Linked DNA regions of Homo sapiens. The protein of the gene in region 2 purifies or fractionates together with the protein of the main gene of each other region. This does not show direct contact. Each region holds a gene or a part of one and is shown on either strand. Other genes may lie near its edges. The genes, in order: CALU, DUS3L, EIF2A, SERPINE2 and BCAT1.

Region 1 (3,554 bases), on a different chromosome or scaffold from region 2:
CCACCACACCTGGCTAATTTTTATATTTTTAGTAGAGACGGGGTTTCACCAGGTTGGTCAGGCTGGTGTCTAACTCCTGACCTTGTGATCCGCCCACCTCAGCCTCCCAAAGTGTTGGGATTACAGGCATGAGCCACCATGCTCGGCCGAATTTCTATTTTTAAAAGACTCAGTCTATTTGATGATTTGAAGGTATTATTAATTTTCTTGGGTTGACATTATCTTTAAAAAAATGTTTTTAGAAACACATATATATTTTAGACATATATACCTCAATGTTTACAGATGAAATGACATAATGATTGGGATTTACTTCAAAGTAAGAAGGAAGCAAGGAAGTGGATGTGGCTGAGAAAAAACTGGCTGTAAGTTGATTGTTGTTGAGGTTAGGCATAGGTACATGGGGATTCATTATACTATTCTAATTTGGGGGCAGGTGCAGTGGCTCACACTTGTAATCCCAGCACTTTGGGAGGCTAAGGTGGTCAGATCACTTGAGGCCAGGAGTTCAAGATCACCCTGGCCAACATGGTGAAACCCCGCCTCTATTAAAAATACAAAAATTAGCCAGGTGTGGTGGTGCATGCCTGTAATCCCAACTACTCAGGAGGCTGAGGCACAAGAATCGCCTGAACCTGGGAGGCAGAGATTGTAGTGAGTGGAGATCACGCCACTGCACTCCAGCCTGGGTGACAGAGCAAGACTGTCTCAAAAAAAACATAAATAAATAAACAAATAAGTTGTGTACGTCTGCAATGCTCTATAATAAATTTTAAAAATAAAAATAATTATCAGCACAACTTTGGGTGTTTTTTTTTTTCTTTCCCTATGTTTCCACAGGCACTGATGGGGCTTCTTTTTAATGCTAAATTTATGAGGCGAAGAACTTTGTTTCTTCATGATCTCCTTCAACAGGGCACTAGAAGCTGAAAGATACTGTTTGGGAGAATTTTAGATTTACAAAGCCCAGCATCCCAGATGTAAAAGTGTTTGCATTAGTTACTGACTTGTAAAAAAAAAAAAAAAAAGCACACATGCACAAGATAGTTTTGGTAGCTTCAAAATATAACTCCTCTGCCCTTGAATCTATATGATACACAGGGAGACAGAAATATCTCCTTATTTGGCCTCAATGCTTGATAAGTGATGTAGTTAACAGTTATAAAAATTCCTCTCCTTGGGAGGTTCAAATGAGTTCCTCAGTTTTAGCAATGGCAATAAAATGGCAAAAGCCAAGAATAAAAAGATAAATCATTTAAAAGTAGAAAACCCTAGTAACATCAACGTGGGCTCAGTAAATGCACCTAGGCACTTATCCACTGTCCTGATAAACTTCTCCAAAAAAAAAAAAAATCAGTTTAGGAAAACATCCATCCTATCTTCCATTGCTCATCCTTCTTTAAAAAGTTCAAAGTATGCCACTGAACCTAAGAAAAGGGAGGTAAACAGTCAAGGAGTAATTCAATTGGAATAACTCTAGCATGTAAACAACAGGTATGATAAGACAACATCTAAGTAAAGCAGTGACTTGCTCCATACAGTTTAATGACAGGTGATAGAGGTAAGGATTAAGTCTTCCTTTCAGGCTTCAAATAAACATTTCAGGTAACTATCAGAGGTCTAAAAACAAACGGGCTTATCTGAAACACAAAACCAATGGTGTGCTAGAATAAGTTATTACAAATGACAATAAGTATGTGAAATATTAAAATATCTAATATCTTTCTAAACAAAGTATTTGTAACAATGACATTTGTAGTAACAGTCTTATACTTTCCATCTTTACTCACTTTTCTAAAGAGATGGAGTCTCGCTATGTTGCTCAGGTTGGAGTACAATTGCTATCCACAGGCACAACCTCACTACTAATCAGCACAGTTTTGACCTGCTCTGATTCTGTCCCGGGCCGGTTCACTCCTCCTTAGGCAACCTGGTGATCCTCTGCTCCCAGGAGGTCACCATATTGATGATGAACTTGTGACTATAGTCCAGACTCTTGGACTCAAGTGATCCTCCTGCCTCAGCCTCCCAAGTAACCGGGTATGCCACCACACCCAGCTCCTTTACTCATTTTAATTTCTGTCACAGTAATTGGGAAACAATTTGCTCAACTACTTGGTAAGAAAGACAGCTTTTTTTTTTTAAAGCAATGAGAATATCTTAAAATTAGTCTGATGATAATAAAACAGAGCTTTACTTGGGAGAAATTAGCCTTGAAGGTGTGACATCCAAAACAATTTTTTTAAAAAAATTTAGACAACTAAAAAGGGAAATGTCAAAAGGGAGAAACTTAAAAAACAAAAGGAAAGTAGTCAGAGAATCAGAGAGAAAATATGAACAGAACACAGTAAAAAGGAATGGCTACAAGAGGGATCAGCAACTCCCCGTCATTTATTTATCCATCTTTTAATCTATTCCCTATCTCCTTTCCCTGGGTTTCCCTATGTCAGTCTGGGCTCCCTGCAACTCTTTTTTTTGTTTGTTTGTTTGAGACGGAGTCTCGCTCTGTAGCCCCGGCTGGAGTGCAGTGGCATGATCTCAGCTTACTGCAAGCTCTGCCTCCTGGGTTCATGCCATTCTCCTGCCTCAGCGTCCCCAGTAGCTGGGACTACAGGCGCCTGCCACTACACCCGGCTAATTTTTTGTATTTTTAGTAGAGACAGGGTTTCACTGTGTTAGCCAGGATGGTCTCGATCTCCTGACCTTGTGATCCGCCCGCCTCGGCCTCCCAAAGTGCTGGGATTACAGGCGTGAGCCACCGTGCCCAGCCCCCTGCAACTCTTTACCATCAGTTCCATAGAGCATGCAGGATACACTATATCTGTGCTGTTGAGGATGGTAGCCACAGGTGCTTATTAAGCACTTGAAATGTGGCTGGGATGTGCTTTAAGTATTAAAAAAAAACCCTCAATAATTTACATTAAGTGGAAATTATAGAGTTTTAGAATATTAGGTTAAATAACTACTGAAATTTCATCTGTTTCTTTTTACTTTTTAATGTGGCTATTAGAAAAGTTAAAATTACATATGGGGCTCACATTTATATTTTGATTGGGCAATGTGGCTACGGATACTTTATCACAACCCACTATCACACTGGTCTGGTTAATGATCTGGTGACAGCTAATGAGCTAGTGAGAATTGACCCTTGGAGTAAATTGTTTCTATGGGCAAATACATCTTTCTTTCTTTCTTTTTTTGAGACAGTTTCACTCTTGTTGCCCAGGCTGGAGTGCAATGGCGTGTTCTCGGCTCACTGCAACCTCCGCCTCCTGGGTTCAAGCGATTCTTCTGCCTCAGCCTCCTGAGTAGCTGGGATTACAGGCGCCCGCCACCACACCCAACTAATTTTTTTGTATTTTTAGTAGAGACGGGGTTTCCCCATGTTGGCCAGGCTGGACTTGGACTCCTGACCTCAGGTGATCTGCCCGCCTCGGCCTCCCAGTGTTGGGATTACAGGCATGAGCCACTGTGCCCAGCCAGCAAATACACCTTTCAAAGCTTCTCAGCTTTTCTAAGAAAAACACTAAAAGCAGAGACTTACCAATATACTC
Region 2 (3,578 bases):
GAACGGTTTGGGGTGCTGCATGGGGCAGCGGGGGGCCCGGTCCAGACAGGCCAGGAGGGCGGCAGTGGGAGTGCAAGTGGCCCAACCGGAGAACAGGCTGAGAACCTGGTGGGGTTCTGTTTGCCTGGTTACTCGGGGCAGCGGGTTCCAGCCTGCAGCGCGCCCACTGGTTGGGGTTCTGGGTGTTGGGGGCAAGCAGGGGCAGACGTTGGCAGACATGGTCATCACCATGGGAGGGAGGATTCTGGGCCAGGCCTTTGCCTCTTCCAGCAACACCCCCCTAACAGCTTTGAGGCCGCCTCCTCCAGGCAGGCTGCCCTGATCCACACCCACACAGGCTGAGGCCCCCCGGGTCCTCAACCCGCTACCTTCTTGGGGGTCAAGGCCTCTCTGGGCACCAGCAGCACCCAGCTTGGGGCAGGGCCCATGGAGGCAGCTAAGAGGTTTGGGGAAGGTGGGGGCCGAGGAGGGGCTGCTTCAGGGTCACAGAAAGGCCTGGATTTTAAAAGAATAAAATTTATTGTACTCTCCTCGCCCCAGGGTGCCCCTGGGAAAGCCTGAGGCTACTTGTACGCGTTGGCCTTGTGCTTCGGCAAGAAGGCGAAGCTGGGGGGCACTGGCCCAAGGAGCATCTCGCTGTGGGAGAGCAGGTGGAAAGCGAGGTCAGGCCCAGGACCTGCAAAGTACCCTCCGTGACCCCGGGCCCCCGACTGCAGCTCCCCAACTCCAGCCCACCCAGGCACCTGATGCGGATCCAGTCGGCTGCCTTCTGGCTGGCCATCAGCGTCTCCAGGTAGTCGCGGCCCAGGTAGTAGGGCGGCCGCTCGTTGATCCTCTGTGGGAGCCGCTCCAGCAGCCCCACGGGCACGTACCTGCGGCGGGTGGGCGGGCAGGACAGGCTTGAGTCAGCTCTAACCAGCCGCGGCCCACGCGCCGCCCACCCCAGCCAGCCCCGGTGCCCACCGGCACAGGAAGGACAGCCACTCGAGCAGAAAGCGCCGGGTCTTCTCCACGCCCTGCGTGTCCGAGCCCCAGTGCTCCAGGCCGTAGTTGGTGAAGTCCCGCAGGATGTCCAGGCGCTCGGACGACGAGATGTCCCAGTGCCGCTGCTCCTTGATCTCCGTGAAGAGCCACGGCTTGAGCAGGGCGCCACTGTGGGACGGGTGACGATCAGTGGGCCCAGCCACCAGCCTGCCTGGGATCGTGTGGCCTCTGCTTCCATGGCCTGGCCTGAGCCGGAGCCCAGACCACAAAACCTACAAGCCTAGTAAGCCTCCCAGCTGCATGCACACAACCTTCAAAGCACAGGACTTTCTTTTGTTTTTTCTGAGACGGAGTCTGGCTCTGTCGCCCAGGCTGGGGTGCAGTGGTAAGATCTCGGCTCACTGTTCAACCTCCGTCTCCCAGGTTCAGGCAATTGTCCTGCCTCAGCCTCCCTAGTAGTTGGGATTACAGGCGTGTACCACTACACCTGGCTAATTTTTGTATTTTTAATAGAGATGTTTCACCATGTTGGTCAGGCTAGTCTTGAACCTCCGACCTCAAATGATCGGCGTGCCTTGGCCTCCCAAAGTGCTGGGATTACAGGCGTGAGCCACACACCTGGCCAAAGCCCAGGACTTTCAACCCACAATCATCAGATCCCACAGCAGCAGCAATTTCCAGTCCCCTCTGCCGCAACGCAGCTGCAACTCCTGACATCGCTCTCTGCTCCTCCCATCTTGGGACCAACAGCCCACCACAGAACAGGGGTGGGTGACGGCGTGTTGGGTTCAGGGCACTGCTGCTGTGCATGAAGCTGGATCTCTAACATCCCTGGGCACTTACCGGGCAATCATGATCCCGGTGACACCAGTCTGCATGGCGCGGTTGGCATCCTCAAATGACAAGATGTCCCCATTTCCTGAGGAGACAGAGGCTGGGGTCTCAGGGAGACATGGGCAGGTGGGACCCTGGAGTTCTGCTCACCAGCCCTTCAGGAGTTTTGGCTGACCCAGTGGCTCCCATCAGGGTGGTACGAGGGGGTCCCAAGTGGGAAGGCGAACAGCCCAGAGGTGTGAGTGACCAAGGGTGGTAGGGGAGAGGGAGGTGGCTTCCCGGAACACCCACCGAACAGGGGCATGGGGCTGGCGGCCTGCACGCACTCCTCGATGTACTGCCAGTCGGCTAGCTTGGTGTAGCGCTGCTCCCGAGAGCGGCCGTGGAGCTGGGGGAGAAGCCGCCACGCAGGGTAGGAGGCAGAGAGTGAGACGCAGAGAGGAAGAGACCAAGAGAGCCAGGCTGAGAGAGACAGAGAGAGACACAGGCGGAGACAGAGGGAGGTGTGGAGGTGAAGAGGGAGGGATGGGAGGAGAGGAGCCATTAGGAAGGGACGCGGGGTCGACCGCGAGGCCCCAATGCCCGAGGCGTCCCAAGACCCACCGTGACGAGTGCCACGCCCCAGTCCCGCAGCTCGGGCAGCAGGCGGTGCGCCAGGTTCACACGCTCCTGGACGCCTGTGCGGATCTTCACAGTCAGCGGCACATCCAGCACCTACAGGACGGTGGTGGGAGGTGGTGGGAGATGGTGGGAGGTGGTGGGAGACGGTGGGAGGTGGTGGGAGACAGGGCCCGGGGGAGTTGTTTGGGAGCCAGTGCGAGGATGTGGCTGGCCGTACCTGGTTCATGCCACGGACGATCTGCTGGAACTTGGTGGAGCGATTCATGAGGGCACAGCCCCCACCCTGGAAGAGACAGGCGGGTGGAGGGAGGGCAGGACGTGGGCTGACCCAAGACCCCTCACCCCTGCTGCCCGGAGGCCCCCACCAGGAGACGCCGACCTGCAGGAAAGGCAGGGACTCCAGGGCCACACTTGAGCCCAAACCCCTGACCCTCCACCGAGACATCGCCGGCTGGGTCAGTGCCTCCCTGCCCAGATGGGGAAACCGAGGCACACGTCCAGGGCCGCTACCTTCTTGTACACGAGGTCGATGGGGCAGCCGACGTTGATGTCCACAAAGTCCACCTCCACGGTGCGGCTCAGCAGCTCGGCACACTTGGTCATGGTGTCGGGGAAGGCGCCCTCCAGCTGTAGGTGGGTAGTGGCAGAACAGGAGGGTGAGGGGAGAGTCCGAACTGTCCCCACTTGGCCGTTCCCTCCCCACTGGGGGGCCCTGAGCCAGTGGCCTCCTCTCTCGGGGCCTCCCCGGAAGGAGCCAAGGTCTGTCTGCGAGGCACCGGTCCCCGGCCACGGCCATCAGCCCCCAGAGGTGGATCAGGGCATCACCCCCACTCCACAGCTGAGGCCAGGGGGTCAGGGAGGCAACCAGGGCAGACCTGGAACCTGGCTCTGAGACAGGACGGCCGAGGGCCCCTCCACTCTCCCTCCCTCGGGGTGGGCACTGACCTGGACGCCAAAGATGTCCTCACACTGGTGGCGTTTGAGTAGGGCCCACTCGGACATCTGGCCCTGCAGCAGGTTGGTGCAGACGGCCATCTCTCCACATGTCACATCCGCCCCGAAGCGCTTGCAGATCCGTCGGAAGGGCAGGTTCCCACACTGCGGGGGGAGCAGGACAGACACACATGCTCTTGCACGCG
Region 3 (3,554 bases), on a different chromosome or scaffold from region 2:
TAACCAGCCTAGACCTGTCAAAATTCAAGAATTATCAGCAAGACTATACTGATATAGCAACCAGCTGTTAAAAATCTGCCCTTTCTAGGATGGGCACAGTGGCTCACGCCTGTAATCCAAGCACTTTGGGAGGCTGAGGTGGAAAGACTGCTTGAGCTCAGGAGTTTGCGACTAGCCTGGGCAACATGGCAAAACTCGGTCTCAAAAAAAAAAACCAAGCCAAAACCAAACCAAAAAAACCTACTCCCATTTCCTGCTTGAAAAACATAGCGATAACCTATCTTTACAAAAATAAAAAAATTAGTTGGGAATGGTGGTGTACATGTACAGTCCTAGTTACTTGGGAAGCTGAGGCAGGATTAGTTGAGCTCAGGGTCTGGGGTTGCAGTGAGCCGTGATCATGCCTCTGCACTCCAGCCTAGATAACAGAGTGAGACAGAGTGTCTCAAAAGAAACAAAAACAAAACATCCAAAAACCCTACCCCACTGCTACAGTCTGACATATTGGTGTTTCCCTCAAATTCATAGTTTGGGACCTAATACCCAATGTAATAGTATTAAAAGGTGGGGCATTTGGAAAATGATTAAGTCATGAGGATTCCACACTCAAGAATGAGATTAGTAGCTTTATAAAAGAGACCAAAGAGAGCTCCACTGCCCCTTCCACCATGGGAGGACACACAGAAAGAAGGTGCCATCTATGATGAACGGGTTCTCACCAGATACCAAATCTGCCAGCGCCCCAGCTTCTAGAACTGTGAGCAATAAATTTGTTTATGAATTACCTAGTATAAGGTAGCAGCCTGAATGGATTGAGACATGTACTCTACCTGAATTGCAAAAATGTGATCACCATAACTTCACTAACCAGACATCCCCAGCCCAGCCAATCACATTATCACCATGAGCTATACAATATCACAATTTGTCAATTATTTACACTGGTGTGGCTTTTCAACTACGTAATCAAGTAAGAAACTATTTTGGAAATATCCCATTATTTGGGTACTTCTGGTATTTCGATTCCCAGTTAAATAATTTCATATAGTACTATAATACTGAGTGCCCAAATGGCTTTCTAGTCATGTAATTTCCAGCTTCTCTTAGTAAATACATGCTTCAAGGAAAGCAAACTACACCACTTCACACAAGTGCCACCAAAAGGGTCTACAGCAAGTAACATGCTTACATAATACCATTAGTGTCTCAGGTTATGATGTCAAGTCCAGTTTCTTTTGTCACCCATCATATAGACAGGATTACTTAGAAATTCATAGGCAAAGACAAAAGAAAGATATTCTGCCTATTTAAGTCTAACTCCAACTACATTTTATAACGTAAGAGCCAAGGTTTTTTGTGCTTTTTTTCTTTTTTTTTCGAGTCATGGTCTTGCTCTGTTACTCAGGCTGAAGTGGTACAATCACAGCTCACTGCAGCCTCAACCTCCCAAGCTCAAGTGATCCTACCATCTCAGCTTCCCAAGCAGCTGGGACTACGGGGTACACGCCATTGTGCCCAGCAAAAAATTTTTCATAGAGATGGGGGTCTCACTATGTTGCCCAGGCTGGTCTCGAACTGGGCTCAAGCAATTCTCCCACGTTGGCCTCCCAAAGTGCTGGGTTACAGGCATGAGCCACCACACCTGGTCACAGTCAAGTATTTAGGACCACAATTCTTTAAACTTTAAGGCTTAAAGCTAACTTAACTGCCTTTTTTTTTGGAGATGGAGTCTCTCTCTGTCGCACAGGCTGGAAGGCTAGAGTGCAGTGATGCGATCATGGCTCACTGCAACCTCCACCTCCCAGGTTCAAGTAATTCTCCTGCCTCAGCCTCCTGAGTAGCTGAGATTATAAGCCATGGCCAACTAATTTTTGAATTTTTAGTAGAGACAGGGTTTCACCACGTTGGCCAGTCTGGTCTTGAACTTCTAACCTCAAGTGATCCACTCGCCTCAGCCTCCCAAAGTGCTGGGATTACGGGCGTGAGCCACTGCGCCCGGCCATAACTGACTATTTGTTTTGTTATGAGATTAGTGCCCCAAATACCTGCTTTGCAGCTTTCTTAGCTTCATGCTTCCTTTGATTTTTAAGAGCTGTTTTTGATAATGGCTTATCGTTTCCTGATTGTGGTTTCATATTCTGAGGTGGTTCCTCTTCATGCTATGGAAAATGTAAAATAATTTTGAAATGGAGTCCATGTTGTAAACACCTACAACAACAAATTATACACTTCTGCTAATATAGGATAAACTTATTTTATCAAATTTAAGATCATTAGCAAAGATTATTTTGAAACTCATTGGTAGTGGCACACTCCAACTGTCAGGATGGATTTAATTAGGGTCTTCCTATTAGTTCCTATATCTTTCAATCATATCAGAGCTGGCAAAATTCACTTTAGTTTTGTTCAAACAGAATTTTTCTTAGCACTACTACAGACACATGATTCTTATGAAAACTAGATACCAACAACAGCTTCTTCTGAGGCCTTTTTGGTTCTAACTATTGTCAACAGAAACCCAGTTGCCTCGCTTGTTTTCTTCACACAAAGAATTACTTGCTAGATCTTTACTTGTAAAATCAGAAATTAGAAGATTAAAAATAAAAGCAAATGAAAAAACAAGAATAGATTATAAGAAAATAAATGAAATAGAAAGGAGTAATTAACTAGATAATTACAAATCTGGGATTGACATATGAAGAGACCAAAAAAAAATTACATGGCTTGTCAGATTACACAATGAAGACAATCATTTCCAACATCAGATATTCATGTAACCATGTAACAACTATATTCCACAATAGAAAAGATGGTGAATTATAGATTCAATGTATCTCCAGAACAGTTTTAGACAACATACAGTATAAGTGATGGCACTACAACTCTCTATCAGATTCAGGTACTTACTGATTTCTATCTATATTGCTATTATTTTAATGTTAACTGTCTCTTAGACTGTACCATAACTCAGCACATCAAAAGTACCAGCTCTCCATGAAGTTTCTTGAGTACTAGGTCTCAGATCCGCATTTTACTTATAAGTTCTATATGGAAATGAGCAGAGCTCAAACACTTAAGATGCAGAGTAATAAATAAGAAACCATAAAGTGACCTTATCTTAGCAAATGCATTAACTATTTCAGGTCATCAAAGTTCTGGGTATGTTCATATTCTACTTGAAACAAACTGAATATTATGAGAACCCACATTTGTAGAACAGCAGACAAATTTGGAGTGCAAGGCTCTTTCATTTCATTTTTATCCATGTTGCATAAAATGCTACTTAAGTTATACAATATTTGCTGAACATTTGTTTTATACATAATATGAAAATTCTTTCAATAGTGGGCTCTTCTGTAGTAGTTTACTTTGGCCGAAAAGTTTCTGCTCAGAACTTTGATGAAAAATGATACAAGAAGAAAAGATAAGTTACAAGTCTCTTCCACGCTTATGAGCATCATGTAGCCACTGAGAGCCTTTCACTTGAGACGAAAAAAATCCACACAACTACTATAAATCATGAGTTTTTTCTGGTTTTGGTACTATGTGCTCAT
Region 4 (3,554 bases), on a different chromosome or scaffold from region 2:
CAATGAGTATACAGGAATGTGTTTGCTCCCCTGCTAGAGGAAGCCCTGCCACGTGACCCAGTGCTTACTTGTTGCTGCTGAAGCTTTGGTTCCATCTTCACTGACTTCAATTTTTGCTTTTTGCAAGATATGAGAAACATGGAGGTTTTCTGACCCTGCTTCCAGAAAATAAAACAGTATCAGCATTTGTTTGATAGGCAGGCCATTGGTTGGTTGGGGAAGTAACCTCAAAGCTCAAAGCCATGGCAAATTCCAATTTTTAAAGTGTCAGAAGACATGACCTCTGACAGTCCTGGTGTTGAAGGCTGCAGACAGCTGTTACTTGTGAATTTCAGTCCCTGCTAAGTGAACTGTGATACTCACTTCTGGAGAAGGGCCCAGGCCCTCAAATGATTTAGTGCCTCTATCAATTCAATTCTGATCACTAGAATTGTTTTTTAAAAATGAAAAGAGCAGAGCTTTAAAAAGGAAGCCCGGTTTTCTGGAAGCAGCAAGGCAACAAGATTATTTTTCAGTTACAGAATGCAGATGCAGAAGGGATTTCAGACAGCATTTACAGATGGGGAAACTGAGGCCTAGAACGTTAAGTAATGTTCCCTGCAATCATACGGCTAGTTAGTGGCAGAGTAAGTCCTGGCTCTTCACAACAGCCACTCATCTCATGGGCATGCTAGTAAGAGAAGAGTGTCGAACAAGAGAAGAGTTTAGATTTTCCTGGAAGGGCCGATGTGTAAATGCAGTTGTGCCTCAGGGACATTCTGGTGAACTCACTTTACTTCTCAGCAAATTCTGACCATTCCAGCAACACCCACTGGGTGTAGCTTTCACAGAGAATGAAAAACTTAAGTTGATATTAGTCTGGATGGGACATAGGTCTGGATGCAAAGGGAAAATGTGCTTTTTGTGTCATCTGCTTGTGAACTATCTGCACCAATGCCCAGCTCTAATATGACCAAATTGTGACTGAGATGCACATTTATAGGGCCCAAGTCACATGCAGTGTTAAAGAGGACTTTCCAGGAGAATCTGGGGCACCTGGTTCTTCCTGTGAACACCCCCCATTTAGTATTTCAGCTACCATGAACAACCTTGAAGGGAAAAGTGCAGATGAAAATGGTGCTTCTCAGTCTTTGCTGGGCTGAGGGACTGTGTTAAAATGGATTCTGGTTCAGTGGGTCTGGGTTACACCCAAGATTGTGCATTTCAAACAAGCTCCTGGGTGATGCTAATGCTGCTGGGCTGGAGGCCTGAGTTTGAGTCATGAGGGATGAACGGCTATCAGAATATCCATGGAGCTGCAGGTTCACCAGGGGAGTCATGTTTGTCCCCAGAACAGGTACTAGGTGTTTACTAGCATGCAACTGAAGCTGGTAATGAGCTAATTTCTTACCACTCAAAGTTATTTGCAAACTGGAGTGCAAATAATGTTCAAGCCATGGCTTTTCCTTGGAAAGATTGCTATGTTCTAAATTTAAAGAACAAAGGACTGACCATTCAAACATAACTCTAGAAAAAGGTACATATACTGCTGGCAAATGAAAAGCATGCCTTAATTGCTTTGGCAAAGGAAAGTTTTAATCAGATTCATTTGAATTTATATCGTTTCATATTAATGAGCATGAAATGCCAAAATACATATCTGGGTACAGTGAATGACTGCAGTCTTGACTTTTTTTCAAGCAAAAGGAAAAAGTTGGCATTTGAAAACAGAGCGACAACACCTAAGTCAGAGCCAATATTCATAAAAGCAATACATGAAATACTCCTTTAGGTAGTCACTGGGGCTTCCCATGAAATGTACGTGCAAAATGTGGGGACGCTGATTTAAATGAAGGTCAAGAGCAATGACTAGATAAAGAAAATGAGGTATGTACACATCATGGAATACTACTCAGTCATAAAAAGAATGAAATAATATCTTTTGCAGCAACTTGAATGGAGCTGGAGGCCATTATTCTAAATGAAGTAACTCAAGAATGGAAAACCAAATACTGTATGTTCTCGCTTGTAAGTGGGAGATAAGCTACGGGTATGCAAAGGCATACGGAGTGGTATAATGGATTATGGAGACTCAGAAGGAGGAGGGTGGGTTGGTGAGGAGCTAAAAATCTATTAATACATATTGAGTACAACGTATACTACTCGGGGGAGGGGTGTACTAAAATCTCAGACTTCATCGCTATATAAACTGATCCATGTAACCAAAAACCACTTGTATCCCAAAAACTATTGAAATAAAAAGATAAAAGGAAAAAATAAATAAATGAAGGTCAATAAATAAACGAAGGCCAATAGCATAATTTGGCAATGTATCAAATGAAACCTTGTACAGTTTCAGGGCAACACATTCCTAATTCTGATCCTTTTTCTCTGCACAAATCAGTCTCAGTTTGTAACACTTTCTTCAAGTATACAAATACATTTTAAATTGAACATACTTGTTATTTTTGCAAAATTTGCCTTTGATGAATCAAACATGTCAGTAATGCCAAGAACTTTCAGCGGCTCCTTCAAATCTGTTTGTGCTACAGCTGTGAACCTAGCATGAAAGCAGAAATGGAGAAAAAAAATCACGAGGCTATAAATGCTACATGATAGAGTCGGTGCATGTTTACAAACTGATTCTTTTAAAGTTAATATCTGAATACCGATCTGAATTGCATCTTAAATTTGAATTCCAAATTTAAATACCAGATAAGTAAAGGACAACTCCTCTCTCAAACACTTAGCTGGCAAAATGAGTCATATGTACTAACGGCAAGAATAGGCGCTCCCACCCTCAGGTGTAATGGGCCCCCTGTTCCAATACTTAGGAAGATCTACAAACATACTTTCTTTTATACTGACGTGGAGGTTGAGTGTTAACAAGTTCCTAGTACTCTGGAATATCTATTATTCTTCCCCATATCCAACTAAAGTTCTCCATATCCATCTTGGCTGCTCTAAGACCTGCCATCCTTATTGGGATTGGAGATGGTCAAAAGAGAGGAGAAACATTCCTGATAGTTCATTTTGGGATTCTTTTTTTTGAGACAGAGTCTTGCTCTGTGGCCCAGGCCAGAGGACAATGGTGCAATCTTGGCTCACTGCAACCTCTGCCTCCTGGGTTCAAGCAATTCTCCCGCCTCAGCCTCCCAAGTAGTTGGGATTACAAGCACCCACGACCATGCCTGGCTAATTTTTTATATTTTTAGTAGAGACGGGGTTTTTCCATGTTGGCCAGGCTAGTCTGGAACTCCTGACCTCGTGATCCGCCCACCTCGGCCTCCCAAAGTGTTGGGATTACAGGTGTGAGCCACCACGCCCAGCCCCTTTTGAGATTCTGAAAGTATTTTACTATTAAAACAGGAGCAAAGATTAGGCATAGGTGACACGGTATTATATTTGGGTATAATATAGGTTTCTTGAATATTTGTGACCTACTTGGCCTTGGGGATATATGGAGATATATGCACACACACACACACACACACACGTATATATATGTGTGTATATGTGTGTGTGTGTGTGTGTGTGTGTGTGTAAATGTCAGTTACTGTCATCAGAGGATGCTT
Region 5 (3,554 bases), on a different chromosome or scaffold from region 2:
CCCTTGTTACAATCAGCTGTGGCTAAGGTGGAGTCACCTGCAAAGAACATGGCCATACTGGCCTTCTCCTTTGACAGGTACAACAGGTAGGGGAAGTTATCTAAGTGGGAAGTAGGAAGGCTAGGCACCCCAAACTCCTACACTCCACTAAGAAATTGCATATTAACCTTGGCTAAGAAAACACCCACACACACTTCCAAACTAGTTGAAGATCGAAGAAATTAGGGTGCATATGGTATGAACCGAGTTCTATTCTGTAACTATACACCTTAGATCTTGATGGGATGAAACAGAGAAGAAAGTGATAACTTATGTGCTGTGAACAAACAAACCATTGGTTGTTTATCTCTTGAACTAAAAGTGGAGATTTTCAATATTCAAATGGCAGCGTGAAGCTTCTGCTTATATAGTTTCATATCTCAGCTGACTGCAAAGGCAAGAGCCAATAGCCCTCCACTGCTCTGAATAACTAAACCATTTCAGTCTTTTCTACCTGTCTTCCATGCTATATGCACTCTATTGTCCTGGCTTTAATAACCAATAATTTAGATATAAAACTTTGTGTCTATATGTGTTTGCACATTTTGCAAAAGATTGGCCATACTTTTCATAAGATTTACAAACTGGCCCAGTGCAGTGACGGATGCCTGTAATCCCAGCACTTTGGAGGCCAAGGTGGGTGGATCACTGGAGCCCAGGAGTTCAAGACCAGCCAGTGCAACATGGAGAAACCCCATCTCTACAAAAAATACAAAAATTCACCGGGCGTGGTGGCACATGCCTGTGGTCCCAGCTACTCAGGGAGCTGAGGCAGGAAGATCACTTGAGCCCAGGAGGTTGAAGCTGAAGTGAGCCATGATTGTACCACTGCACTCCAGCCTAGGTGACAGAATGAGACCCTATCTGGAAAAAAAAAAAAAAAAAAAAAAAAATTTACAAAGTGGTGTCAGACCCAAGAAAGCCTAGAACCTGGAGAGATCAATAGCACAATAGACTAGGAGTCTGTCTACTTTCTCATTTTGCTCTTTTATTTGTATTATTTATTTATTCTTAAGCAATTCTAGTAAGTTTTCTGATGCTTTCCTTAGAAGAATGTTTTCAGTTAAAGTAGTTTGAGGCCGGGAGCGGTGGCTCACGCCTGTAATCCCAGCACCTTGGGTGGCCGAGGCGGGCAGATCACGAGGTCAGGAGATCAAGACCTTCCTGGCTAACATGGTGAAACCCCGTCTCTACAAAAAATACAAAAAATTAGCCGGGCGTGGTGGCGGGCGCCTGTAGTCCCAGCTACTCAGGAAGCTGAGGCAGGAGAATGGCGTGAACCCAGGAGGCGGAGCTTGCAGTGAGCCGAGATCGCACCACTGTACTCCAGCCTGGGTGACAGAGCAAGACTCCGTCTCAACAAAAGAAAAAAAAAAAAGTAGTTTGCATGGCATTTAGAAAATGGAAAGCAAAAGCACCAATTAAGCAAGGAAGTCTTGCCTCAAACCTGCATGTGTTTCTTCTATAAACACCAGCACTATTCTTATAAGTGTACAGAGCACTCACCGACACTGAAAACCATGGAACCCTGAGTCATGTATTATGCTTCCCCATGTAGACTTCGCAGCTGTCTTTTAACTCTACCTTTTATCTTCAAAGTTCAAGGAAACATTTATTATGATTTCAAATTCCTGAACTCACATCTAGTCCTAAAGTCAAAACAATATAACTTGGTATCTAAATCAACTGAAATGAAATGAAATGCACTTGGCAAAATCACCCTTTTATGTAGTGGTGGAATGCTAACAACTGCCCTGTGACCATCCTGTGCAAATCCACCCTTGGCCTCATCCCAGGATATACCCAAACTTCGTCTCAACTGTGTCTCTTTGTCAGTCACGTTAAGAGACAGCTGTGGAATGTTTGGTCTAGAATATCCCAACAGGTGCTCCTTCCGTCTCAACTTCTATGGAGTCAAATAGAATTTGATCTGTAATCCTATGTCCCAGGCTTCCTAAGTCTTCCTAAAGCAGATATCCATTTATAGTCAAAACAGCAAAAACAGTTCTCACACTGAGGGATAAACCGTAAATGCAATTGATGAAACATTCAAATCTACACACCGAAATAAAGAACTGACAAATGAATTTGTTCTTTTTAGATTAAAGACTATTCTTAATGGAACTAGCTGAGTTTTGCAAGTATTTCACAACTTTCAATAAGAAAGAGCCATATGTTTTTCAGTATGACTTCAGTTTATTACTTGTAATTTCCTCTATTTTTTTCTTTATTGGTCTTCCCTGTTTCCATTCTTCCATTTTCCTGTATTTTTGGGACATAACTGTCTCTTTCTTTTAGAGTTTGTTTTTCCCATTAATTACTGAACACAAGAAAAATGTTTTGCAAAATAGTCTTTCCCACCAAAAAGGTATAACAGTAGAAAAACGTTTATGTGACATGCTATGCTGTATTCATAAGGTAATCTAATTTCCAAGCTATTTTAAGGATATGAGTACTCAATTTTTAGGGGAAAGATAATTTAGCTTTGTGGACTTTAGAGCACAAATTATAAGCATAGTTGAAACTGATACCTGAACCTGGTGTTCCAGAAAAGACAGATTCTCCTTTGCGTTCACCATTGACATTGTGAGTCACTGACAAGGTCTTATGATGAAACTGTTTACCAATATTTGCAAAGTCATGTTTATGAATAAAAGCACCTAAATGCTTAATTTTGAAACATTTAAAAAATGTGAGTTGCACCTCACATTTATTTCTTGGCTGAACTGCATACAATCCCATTGCAGTGGCCTTAGTTGAATGGACAGAGGCTCAGGAAAGGCCAACAGTAGGAACATTTACCATATGTTAGGTGAAATGTATAGACCAGTTGGACAGCTGTTAAGGGGATAATGTTACAATACAAAAGCTGCCTATATTTTTGACAGTAAAATGAGCAGATCAGCCATAGTTTCCTCCTGTGCTCAAAAAGAATGATAGCACATGCCTGTAATCCCAGCACTTTGGGAGGCCGAGATGGGCAGATCGCTTGAGGCCAGGAGTTCCAGACCAGCCTGGCCAACATGGCAAAACTCCGTCTTTACAAAAAAATACGAAAATTAGCTGGGCATGGTGGTAATCCCAGCTTCTCAGGAGGCTGAGGCACAAGAATTGCTTGAACCTAGGAGGCAGAGGTTGCAGTGAGTAGAGATCACTCTGCGGCACTCCAGCCTGAACAACACAGTGAGATTCTGTCAAAAAAAAGAAAAGAAAAAAGAATGATAGCATCATATAGAAAGTAGAGGATAGCTGGCACAATTATGTCTATCATGGAAGGTCCCAGATTCTCACTCTCCAGTATAGCAACCAAACCTTCCTGAGCATAAGGCTGATCATGCCACTGGGTTTCCCTGGGGTGGGCATCTGTTATTTAAAGAAACTGTGGTTACCAACACTAAAGGGAAATAAAGAAAGTTCTTTATTTTCCAACTTCCTATACCAGTTGAGAAGAGGCCATTTAAAGAAGCTGGCAACCTGAAACCCCAAAAGATGTAACTAATACAAAGGCTCAACAT

What was found.
Region 1: the proteins of DUS3L (region 2) and CALU fractionate together in Homo sapiens (co-fractionation; one large-scale study listed by BioGRID). This does not show direct contact.
Region 3: the proteins of DUS3L (region 2) and EIF2A fractionate together in Homo sapiens (co-fractionation; one large-scale study listed by BioGRID). This does not show direct contact.
Region 4: the proteins of DUS3L (region 2) and SERPINE2 fractionate together in Homo sapiens (co-fractionation; one large-scale study listed by BioGRID). This does not show direct contact.
Region 5: the proteins of DUS3L (region 2) and BCAT1 fractionate together in Homo sapiens (co-fractionation; one large-scale study listed by BioGRID). This does not show direct contact.

What each region holds. Positions count from the first base shown.
Region 1 is NC_000007.14:128,759,843-128,763,396, reverse strand, and holds part of CALU (calumenin isoform a precursor), read right to left. Parts: coding exon 3,545-3,554; intron 1-3,544. UniProt on the Homo sapiens protein: Involved in regulation of vitamin K-dependent carboxylation of multiple N-terminal glutamate residues. Seems to inhibit gamma-carboxylase GGCX. Binds 7 calcium ions with a low affinity.
Region 2 is NC_000019.10:5,784,640-5,788,217, forward strand, and holds the end of DUS3L (tRNA-dihydrouridine(47) synthase [NAD(P)(+)]-like), read right to left. Parts: intron 3,538-3,578; coding exon 3,385-3,537; intron 3,067-3,384; coding exon 2,950-3,066; intron 2,723-2,949; coding exon 2,657-2,722; intron 2,533-2,656; coding exon 2,422-2,532; intron 2,281-2,421; exon of another isoform or gene 2,207-2,280; coding exon 2,110-2,206; intron 1,904-2,109; coding exon 1,828-1,903; intron 1,153-1,827; coding exon 964-1,152; intron 873-963; coding exon 744-872; intron 637-743; coding exon 564-636; 3' UTR 501-563; downstream 1-500. Other genes in the region: PRR22 (proline-rich protein 22), read right to left, coding at 1-21. UniProt on the Homo sapiens protein: Catalyzes the synthesis of dihydrouridine, a modified base, in various RNAs, such as tRNAs, mRNAs and some long non-coding RNAs (lncRNAs). Mainly modifies the uridine in position 47 (U47) in the D-loop of most cytoplasmic tRNAs.
Region 3 is NC_000003.12:150,574,254-150,577,807, reverse strand, and holds part of EIF2A (eukaryotic translation initiation factor 2A), read right to left. Parts: intron 2,160-3,554; coding exon 2,046-2,159; intron 1-2,045. UniProt on the Homo sapiens protein: Functions in the early steps of protein synthesis of a small number of specific mRNAs. Acts by directing the binding of methionyl-tRNAi to 40S ribosomal subunits.
Region 4 is NC_000002.12:223,980,243-223,983,796, forward strand, and holds part of SERPINE2 (glia-derived nexin isoform b precursor), read right to left. Parts: intron 2,540-3,554; coding exon 2,439-2,539; intron 159-2,438; coding exon of another isoform or gene 156-158; coding exon 69-155; intron 1-68. UniProt on the Homo sapiens protein: Serine protease inhibitor with activity toward thrombin, trypsin, and urokinase. Promotes neurite extension by inhibiting thrombin. Binds heparin.
Region 5 is NC_000012.12:24,942,587-24,946,140, forward strand, and holds part of BCAT1 (branched-chain-amino-acid aminotransferase, cytosolic), read right to left. Parts: intron 1-3,554.